2 separate regions of the Homo sapiens genome follow, and region 2 is linked to region 1. Evidence: fine-mapped expression QTL. A gene starts in region 1. The other region holds a variant in brackets. All regions are shown on one strand. Distances are between the middles of the regions. Region 1 holds the start of CTXN2-AS1 (CTXN2 antisense RNA 1). Region 2 overlaps DUT-AS1 (DUT antisense RNA 1).

The links.
Region 2: its variant is fine-mapped to the expression of CTXN2-AS1 in whole blood (TOPMed, PIP above 0.99).

What each region holds. Positions count from the first base shown.
Region 1 is chr15:48,189,341-48,194,721 of GRCh38, reverse strand. It overlaps CTXN2-AS1 (CTXN2 antisense RNA 1), which reads left to right and starts at 3,013. Exons shown (of 3, transcript NR_184082.1): 1 at 3,013-3,137; 2 at 3,661-3,789; 3 at 5,213-5,381. It overlaps CTXN2 (cortexin 2), which reads right to left and starts at 3,057. Exons shown (of 2, transcript NM_001145668.2): 1 at 2,869-3,057. RefSeq lists an enhancer at 2,550-3,053.
Region 2 is chr15:48,312,113-48,317,493 of GRCh38, reverse strand. It overlaps DUT-AS1 (DUT antisense RNA 1), which reads left to right. Exons shown (of 3, transcript NR_186809.1): 2 at 2,531-2,599; 3 at 4,753-5,381. It overlaps LOC124903486 (a long non-coding RNA gene), which reads left to right. Exons shown (of 2, transcript XR_007064625.1): 2 at 1-770. Among named protein-coding and RNA genes, the nearest start is that of DUT, 17 kb to the left of the region's middle. The variant T/C (reference allele first, on the strand shown) is at 3,345.

The sequences.
Region 1 (5,381 bases):
GATTAAAGATGGAAGAAGCCTAGCAAGGAACTCCAAGGAATGCCTCTCCTACAAGGAGGATCTCCTAGTGGAGTTATATAAGATGAATCATGAGTAAATCTGTAGCAGAAAGTTCACCTATAATAAAGGAGGCTAGGGCTTCTAGAATGAGGCATTAGCAAACAGTGTCAAATTCTGCAGCGGTGATGGAAACTAAGCACTGGAAAACAGGGTCTTATGGTTGGCATTCAGAATTATTTCATCATTATAAAAATTTAGTTGAGAGTCTAGGAGGGACACTAAATTGAATTGGATTTAGGAGTGAGGGGTAATGAGAAAATGGAGTCAGGTGGTAAATAAACTTGACAGAAAATAAGTTTTACTTAGTCGGTACAGAAGGTTAAATCATATGATGAATCACTTTCAATAATGAAGACATGACTGCATATTCAGTTTTTAAAGGAAGAGCTCCATAAATTTACCTGGATTCAAAGAACTGTAAAATTTCCATTTTTAACAAAAAAAAAATGGGTTGAGAAAGAACAAATGTTTTATTAATATCTTAAAAGAGAAAACAGGCTTTTATATTTATCATAAAATATACTTTATACTAAAGATGAAAACAAAATACAGGTCAAGGAGAGCAACTGAAAAAGTAATATTCAAAGGCTGATTAAAAATTTGTCCATTGCTGCAGGCTGTGCCTACACAAGCAAATAGAAGTAAAAAGTTAAGCAATTGCCTAACAATGTGTTCAGCAAATAGATGGTTTTAGTAATTTAAACCATATATATAGCAGTTGAAATATCAGTATTTCAGGCCTAAATTTTTCAAACAATTGGCCAAACTTTCCATTTTACTTGCTCTGTGAAATGAAGAACTTGTCTCATTTCAACAACAAATCCAAAGTTTTTGAGGATATACTGTTAAGTGTGCCAAGTCCTGCTTTTCTACTGATATAGAGCATAATATGATATGAAAATATTGTTAATAACAAAATATTATTAAAAACAAAAGTCCCCAGTTATAAAACTGATTCATTCACAATTACTAAGGTGTTCAAAATACTCAACAGTTATAGATAAAATATGCATTTTCACTTTCTCTAAAAGCTGGAAGAGCTATTCACAACAGACACTGTAATGCCTAGCTCCAGAGAAGCATCATTTTAATATCCTGTTTATTGGGAAATAGAAAAAAAAAGAAATCTGAGAAAATTTAGATTAAGTTACAAAACCATATATTAAAAAATCCATATAAAAATAGTTAAGAAAAAATGAACTTTCAAAAATAAGTAGAATGTAAAATTGGGTAGTGGTAAAAGTTATTTGAAATATATTATACCACAAAATTGGGTAAAATAAACAATGCACAGTTTAAATATCAGGATCAATATATATAATGATTAAAATATTTAAGTGTCTTTTAATACTACTGATGCAAATGATAAAATATTGTCTTGAGCCATATTCACTGGAATAAATGGTTAGGTACTTTGGCAATGAGTAACTTGGTTGAAAGTACATTTCCTTCATGGCAATTGTCAGGCACCAAGATTTCTAAGTACTGATGAGTCATAAGATTGGGCCAGGGGTGTTCCTGTAGATATCAAATAGCCCAAATCTCATGAAGTTGCTTTGTAATTGGCAACTAGTAAGTAAAAAACAAAGTCTTCCTATGATCAGTACTTACAAATCATATCTCCGTAAGCAGTTAAGCAAAGATGATAGTATTTTTATACCTGATATGCAGCCTTTCATATTCATGAATATTGTTAGTGATGTTTATGTCTTCTGTGAAATAACCTTACTAGAGATATAAAAATATACCTTTCAGATAAAATCATTTAATCATGCAACAATGCACAATTACAGAAACTAATGTTAAAAAGTGTGTACCCATTAAAGAAAGAACCTCCTGTGTTTTATTTTAATCAACAGGTTTTTCCTCTTGTTTATTTCTCTAGTAATGGTATTCCAAACAATAAACCTGAAATAATAACTATTAGAGTGGAATATGATGTTCTAGGTAGAAAGTATTTTAGCACTGGTCATTAGATATAATAATCTCTACTGCTAATGATGACATTCATAATTTCATGAAATAAGACATATAAGAAAACCCAAGCTTAAAAAATAATGAACCATTCCATACATATACACACTCCACACAAAATATAAAGATTATATCCCAGTAAAAGAGAGAAAAGAAGCATTATTGAAACCACATCTGCACAGAGGTAGTTAATCATTAAGAATCGAATGTGTTGGAATAAAAGGAAAACCTTAAATTACAAACCTAGATGTCTTCATCATGGTGAAATGCATAAATTTCAGGGCTTTCCAGAGATCCCAGACCTTAGGATCTGCCAGAATCCACCCCTAAACCCTCAGATTTCAACCTTAAGAGAATTTCTCTCTTAAGAGAATCTTTGGATGGCTCAAGGACTCTGACACTCAATCCTTCCAACGCACTGGGAAACCTGGTCTGAAAATTCTCCAGATATCTCATTAAAGAAACCTAGACCATCATCATCATTCTGCGTTGTTTGTTTCCAGGTCTCTTTCTACGCACTAAACCGAAGAAGCATGGAAACTTCCTACAAAACATTATGGGAGAAGCATCAGCAATCTGCACGTACACAACACTTTTCCCCCGCCTGGCAGCCGCATCAGCAGTGGCGCTAGCATTAGGGGTGCTGTTTCTCCTTTAGAATTTGAACTTATCAGACCTACTGGCTCCTCCACCCACCGCCCCACCCCCCGCTCTTTTGCTTCAGAAATACAAGAGAATGAGGACATGCTTCTCATCTGGACCTGCATTTGGAACGCTGTCAGTTAATGCGGAGGGAAGGGGGAGAAAGTTACTTCGCAGACAGCGATGTCTCACCTTCCATGCTTGTTGCCATGGAGATGAAGTCCAGCCAGTAGACTTAAGTGTTGGCACGTTTGTCTGTGTTCGCTGATCGGTTCAGTAACAAATGTAGAAGGCGTGTTCTGGAACCTGCGTAGAGTCACAGGGCCCTGGTTAGCGCTTTCCTGGCCTAGAAGTGTAAATGTCTGTGTCTGTTGGTGAGACAGAGGACGTGGGCGCCCGCCGAAGTACGTGTGCGCGCGCGCGTTTGCAGGAAAACGTGCATGGATTTCTTCGGTGTGGCAGTGTGTAAATATTTGCGCTCGCGTGTGTCTGTGGCAGCATCTGTGTGTGTATGTGAGACTGAAAGGAGGTGGGAGATGAGGAGGGGAAGGGAATCAGCTCCAGCAGCAACAGGCTCTATTCTTCAGTTCTGCTAAAAGAAAGAGGAAGAGAGGAAGAAAAAAATAGACACTCCTTTTTTTTCTCACGACACACCCTGAAGGTTAGCAATTAGATTTCATCATTATCTTTGTTTACTAAGGCAGTGAGGGTTTAATTGATTTACTGCTGAAATCCTTGTTTTGCTCTCTTTGCTGCATTCCTGGCTGTGCTGCGGGCATTTTGCTGTGCTTTGGTGACAGCCGTTTTCAGTAGAACAGTAGGCACTAAATTCTTACACGTTTCTTCTTATCCGGTAAGGAAAATTCAGGAGTGAAAGGTGTATTGATTTAACTGGAGACTGAATGTGTCGTTTGGAGTTCTTTTCCTCTACTCTTTCCCTTCTCTCTTCCACACAAACACAACTGAATCCCCTTCCGTTTCTAGGAGAAGGCGCCTAGGCGCTGTCCGTAGTGCTGAAATGGTGCGTGGTGAGACCTGTCTCCCCAACACAAGCTAGAAGACAACAAAATAGCAGCCAGGAAACGCTCTGATAAAGCTCTAGATAGCTGCCAGGTACGTTTTCTAAACAGTGTTGAATATGTAGATTCTAAACCTAACCGACGTTGAAAGCAAGGTAAAGCAAAGCAAAGCAAAGGAAAACAAAAAAACAACAACAGAAACCTTGCTCTTTATCCTTATTTTAGGGGTCTGGCCGTTTCAACAAACTCAGTTACAGGGTTCCCAATTCTATTTATGTTTTGCGACTCTATCCAGAACCTACAAGTTGCAAGCACTTTTAGATTCCCTACAATCTTAATTATTCACCTTATAACTACTGGACTGTGAGTCGTTGGGGGAAATGTAGATACAGAATTGGGACACTCATCTAAAGAAAATACTTTGAAAACGTAATGTAACTGCAACTAGATTCAATAACAAAGTGAAGACAAACTTCATGATTATTTAGAGTATTTACTGATTTAGGAAATGTAATGGTCTTACAAAAAAATGGGCAATGTATAACTGAGAGTTCATATAAGACCACATTTTTTAAAAGTTGTTTTTTGATTTTAAACTATTAAGATGTCCTAAAATGTAGGTGAACTAACTGCCCTCTATGAAAGACTGAAAGACATATCTTATTCTAGGGACATTTCCATGGCCATGGTTTTATTGACCCTTTTTAAACTTGCCAAGGGCCACATTCTTTATTAGCACTCTGGGCTGGAACAGTGCTTCTTGAAGTATAACATGCATATGAATCTTCAACGATCTTGCTAAAATGCAGACTCTGATTCAGTAGGTGTGGGGTTGGGTCTCAGATTGTGCTTTTCTGACAATTTCCTAGGTGATGCCAGAGATTACTAGTTTTGGGACCAATTAAAGTAGCAAGATGCAGCCAGGAGTGGTGGCTTATGCCTGTAATCCCAGCACTTTGGGAGGCCGAGGTAGGAGGATCACCTGAGGTGAGGAGTTTGAGACCAGCCTGACCAACATGGCGAAACCCTGTCTCTACTAAAAATACAAAAATTAGCTGGGTGTGGTGGTGGGTGCCTGTAATCCCAGCTACTCAGGAGACTGAGGCAGGAGAATCACTTGAACTCAGGAGGCGGACATTGCAGTGAGCTGAGATTGTGCCACTGCACTCCAGCCTGGGTGACAGAGCGAGACATTGTCTCAAAATAAATAAATAAATAAAAATAAAGTAGCAAGATGCTAGAGATATTGAATTCTGGCAATGCAGTCAGTCATAGATTGTGGGAAAGGAGATCATTTTATTCCATCTATTATTCTATGTATGTTTCCAAACTGTTACAAAAATAATTTATTCAAAATTAGTTCAGAGACTAATCATGTAAACATTTTGTCTGTACAGTATGAACAATTTTTTATGAATTTGATTCCTTTGATTTTGATTTTGACATTGTCTGGACCAGTGGTATAGTTGAGTCTGTATTTCCATACTATGATCTATAACCATTCATTCTCTTTGCAGGCCGAGCTCAAGGGAGCAGAACTAAGTTACATGATTCTGCTGCGGATGTATAAGCACCACTCCAATAATTTATTATCACGGTTGGAGACTTTGACTTGTCACTTTATGACTTGAAATATGGCTCCATGGTAAATGCCCATAAAGCTGATTTTTAAAATCTGGATATTAC
Region 2 (5,381 bases), 120 kb before region 1:
CCCTGCATGATCAGACTGTTATTGTTCAACTTTCTCTTGAGTCACACTCATTTCCTAGGTTCCAGAATATCTCAAGTCCTCTCTTGCCTGGGGGCTTTTGCCCGTAGTGTTCATTCTGCCTGGCCTGTTCTACTCACTGTTCTTCACATGGGTAGCACCATCAAAGACAAAAACTGAATAAGTAAGGAGATTGATTTTATTTTGGCTATTGCAATAGGGAAAACACCCCAGATTTGAAGATTAGAGTATGTATTTATTTTCTATTACTGCTGTAAAAAATTTTCACAAAATTAGTGACTTAAAACAATAGAAATTGATTCCCTTACAGTTCTGGAGGCTAGAATTCCAAAATGAGTCTTCCGTGCCAAAAATCAAGGTGTCTCTGGTGCCACATTGCCTCTGGAGAGATGCAGATTCTCTAAGGGAGAATCTGTTTTCTTGCTTTTTCCCATGTCTAGAGCTGCATTCCTTGGCTCATGGCCCCTTTATCTTCAAAACCGGCAGTGTAGCATCTTCTGTCTGACCCTGCTTCCATCACATGATTTTCTGCTTATAGTCAAATGTCCCTCAGCTTCCCCCTTACAAAGATACTTGTGCTTATGCATGTGGTGCTTAATACCTAGGTGATGGGTGGATAGGTGCAGTAAACCATCATGGCATGTGTTTACTTATGTAACAAACCTGCACATCCTGTACATGTATCCCAGAATTTAAAATAAAATAAAGTAAAATAAAATTTAAATTTAAAAAAATACTTGTGCTTTTATTTAGGACTTAGCCAGATAATCCAGGATGATTGCCTCATCTCAAGATCCTTAATCACATTTGCAAAAGCCCTTTTTCCATGTAAGGTAAAATTCACAGATTTCAGGGATTAGGACCTGGATATCTTCAGGGGCCGTGTTCAGCCTACTACAGTGTATCTAGCAGGATAGTTTTGTTTTAGATTTTTTCTGTTTGTTTGTTTTTTTGAGACAGAGTCTTACTCTGCCACTCAGGCTGGAGTGCAGTGGTGTGATCTCAGCTCACTGTAACCTCTGCCTCCTGGGTTCAAGCAATTCTCCTGCCTCAGCCCCCTGAGTAGCTAGGATTATAGGCACCCGCCACCATGCCCGGCTTATTTTTTTGTATTTTTAGTAGAGGCTGGGTTTCACCATGTTGGCCAGGATGGTCTCAAACCCCTGACCTCAAGTGATCTGCCCACCTTGGCCTCCCAAAGTGCTGGGATTACAGGTGTGAGTCCCCACACCTGGCCTTGTCTTAGATTTTTATAGGGAAGAGTAGACAAGTTATAGGTGGAGTAAATTTAAAGTTGGGATTGTTTATTTCTGTGTCTAGTTAGTTTCATGAGGACAAAACTTATCTCAGCTAATCATCCATGAGACAAAGAATAAAGTTAGAAGGTGTCTGTCTGACCTTATGTGCAGGCTCAGTTTAAAGGGGAAAAGTCTGGGTTTGACCTTGTCACAGGTAAACAAAGGAATCATCTACAGTCTTGTAGGAATCATGAGAAAGAGTTGGCAGTGTCTTGTCTAAGTCATATAGGGAATGGTGGTTGATTTCAGTTAGCCATTTCTAGAACACAGAAAGCTGGGGAGACTTCTTAACGATTGCTGTGTTCCAGGAGCACAGGGCTCCGGTAAAGTTCAACACTGTCAGCACCTTCTTATCCTTATGTGTTTTTCATAGACATCCTCACTGAGTACCCTAATAAAGTATTACTATTTCCATTATTCTCTGTCACACTGATACAGAACAGCTGGGCTCCTGGCTAAACCCCCTCCCCACCCCACCCTTAAGCCTGGAACCACAGCCCTAAGTGAAAATAGCTGACCCTGTTTTTCCACCCAAATGTTACTTTTTTGGCCTGCCACGCCCCTATCCTGTTGACATAAAAAGACTTCAACTGGCAGAGCAACACAAGCAGCGGAGCGGTGGGGGTACAAGCTGCTGAGCATCAAGACTATGGATAGATGTGGCTAACTTCAGACAGTGTGGCTTCAGGGAAAGATCACCTTCTTCCCACACCCATCCCCTTTCCAATTCCTTATCCTGCTGAGAGCCACTTATATCACCCAGTAAAATCCTCCGCATACACCAACCACCCTTCTATTCGTTCTTGTGGCCTGATTCTTCCTGGATGCCCGGGTACGGAGAGGGCAGGGGCTTGGATGCTGCTATAGGGCCTGCACAGAGCGTGCTCCTGCCAGAGAGGAGTAATGGGCCAGTTCCAGTGTTGTCTCCGGTTGCTGCACTCGCTTGCTCGCAGGCTCTCTTTTGGGAGGAGTGGCCGACAGTGGGCTGAGTGAAAGGAGCCTCTCCAGTTCCCGCCCACAAAGGGCATCAAGGTCAACAGAGTTATCCTGTCTCAACACTTTCTCTTTATTTCCTTCACAGTATTTTTCACAATTTGTAATTATTATGTGTAACTTGTTTTCTTGTCTGTCTAAACCTTTAACTTTTTGAGGGCAGGGAATGTGGATGCCAATATCTTAAGAGCTCAGAACAGTGTATCTTTGTGTCTTTACAGCCTGACACATTTTTGTTGAATCAATTGACAAAAGAACTGACACCAGATGGCCAATCAACTCAAGAGAAAGTGAGTATAGTAGTGAACTAAATAAGGATAAAAATAACAGTGATTGAAAAAAGAGGCTGGGCGAGGTGGCTCACGCCTATAATCCCAGCAGTTTGGGAGGCTGAGGTGGGCAGATCACAAGGTCAGGAGATTGAGACCATCCTGACCAACATGGTGAAACCCTGTCTCTACTAAAAATTAAAAAATTAGCTTGGCGTGGTGGCGGTGCCTGTAATCCCAGCTACGCTGGAGGTTGAGGCAGGAGAATCGTTTGAACGGGAGTGCGAGGTTGCAGCGAGCCGAGATCGCACCATTGCACTCCAGCCTGGGCAACAGCGTGAGACTCCGTCTCAAAAACATAAAAAAAAGAGTGAGGCTGGGTGCGGTGGCTCATGCCTGTAATCTTAGCACTTTGGGAGGCCAAGGTGGGCAGATAATTTGAGATTAGTTCAAGACAGCCTGGCCAACATGGTGAAACTCCATCTCTGCTAAAAATACAAAAATTAGCCGGGCATAGTGGCGCATGCCTGTAATCCCAGCTACTTGAAAGGCTGATGCATGAGAATCGCTTGAACCTGAGAGGCAAAAGTTGCAGTGGGTTGAGACATGCCACTGCACTCCAGCCTGGGTGACAGAGCGAGACTCCATCTCAAAAAAAAAAAAAAAAAAAAAAAGAGAGAGAGAGAGAGTCAGAAATCCCAGGCAGCAGGATAAGCATATTCAGAGCTCTGGAGAGTACAGAGTGTGTGGTGCGTCAGGGCATAGC[T/C]GGTGTGGAAGGGCCCTGAGCAGGGCAGAATGCGGCTTCATAGTGAGTCAGAGACCAGACCCCAAAGGAGTTTCATACTTGCCATGTCCCCTCAGTGCCCTGTATTAATTCATCGTTCCAACAAATATCTGTTGAATGTGTTCCATGTGCCAGGCACTGGTCTAGACTTTGAGGATATGGCAGGGAACAGAACAGACAAAATAAGTCTGACAACAGATAGAAGATGTGATTCAAATGAGTAGTGCCGAGAGTTAAGGAGAAAAGTAAAGCAGGGAGGGAGGTATGGGATTTAGACTTCTGATTTCAGAGAGGGAAGCCAGGGAAGGCCTCAGTGAGAACATGCTATTTGCTGATTGTGGGGCTGGGGGCTGGGGGTTGTTTTACCTAACTTGAAGGAAGTGATATCTTGGGGAAGGGCATTCCAGGCAGAGGACACAGCAGGCACTAAGGTCCCAGGGTGCAAACTCACCTGTAAGAAGGCCAGTGTGGTCTGAACAGTGACAGAGGAAGGCGTACACAGTTGTAGGTGTTGAAGTCGCAGAAATAGGTGGATGGGGTGCAGGGGTAGGGCCTTGTAAGCTCTTGTAAGGACAGTGGCTTTTCCATGGACTGAAATGGGAAGCCATTAGAAGATTTTGGTAACAGGAATGACAATCTCTAGTTTACTTGGCAGGATTGCTTGGGTTGCTATGAGGAAGAGGAGGAGTAAGGCCTGATGTGGAAAGACCTTTGAGAAGATGTTGAAATGAGGCAGAGGAGGAGCTAGGCCTGATGTGGAAAGACCCTTGAGAAGGCTCCTGCAGTGATCCAGGTGAGAAATGGTCCAGTGGCAACATGGGTCAGAGAGGCAGAAGTGGAGATGGTGACAAGTGAGTAGATTCTGGATATATTCTGAAGCCAATAGGATTTGCTGATAAATCAGATGTGCGTGTGAGAGTCAAAGATGACTCGAAGATTCATGGCAAGGATAGCATTGTCATGCATGGAGATGAAGGAAGAGTGTTAAAGAGCACCTTTGGGAAGGAAGAGTAAGAGCTCACTTTTGGACACATTAAGTCAAAAGTGCACAAATAATACTTTTTTTTAGTAGAATTCATTTTGTAAATGTATCTTTGAGCATTAGGAAATCACAGTATGGTGATCTGTTTCCAATGTGCGTGTTGTGTTAGCAGCTGGAGTTGTTTAATATTTTTTTTTGTATTTGTTTTTGTTTTTTGTTTTTTGAGACAGAGTCTTGCTCTGTCACCCAGGCTGGAGTGCAGTGGTGCAATTACAACTTACCGCAACTTCCGCCTCTAGGGCTCAAGTGATCCTTCCCACCTCAGCCTCCCAAGTAGCTGGGACTACAGGCATACACCACCACACCTGACTAATGTTTGTTATTATTATTATTATTTTTTTTTTGTAGAGACAGGGTTTCACTGTGTTGCCCAGACTGTTCTCGAACTCCTGAGCTCAAGCTATCCTCCTGCCTCGGCTTCCCAAAGTGCTGGGATTACAGATGTGAGCCACCGTGCTTGGCCTAACATCTTTAAATACCTGTTATTTCTTACTCCTCTGAACTTCTCACTTTCCCTGAGAATAATTTTACCACCTCTTTGTTGGGCAGAAGTGCAATAGGAACATCAGAAAGTGCAAGTACATAATAACAGAGAAGTCAGTCTCTTTTTCTTCATCTCTTGGGCATCGAAAAGAGCAGATGATCCAGATTTGAAAGTCTGGGAAAGCCATGCTGTGTGAGAACAGGGGCTTGCATGACAACAGAGGGTTGGGCTTGAGCCCCCAGGGTCTGCAGCAGTCTCACAGTTTAGCAGTTACTTATGCCTTTCTCTCAAAGTCAACTGCTGAGTTTTGTCCCAAACTACCCTCTGCTGCAATATGTCTCCCAGGCTGAGGAGGAAATTAGTCTTCTTATCCCAGTTGTCATTGCTTGTCACCTTCTCTGAAGCAATGACATTCATGACCTGGTTCTTGGCCTCAACCTCTGAGAAGTTCTCCTTTCTGCATTCCTCATCTTAAATTACTTAACCTGAAAAT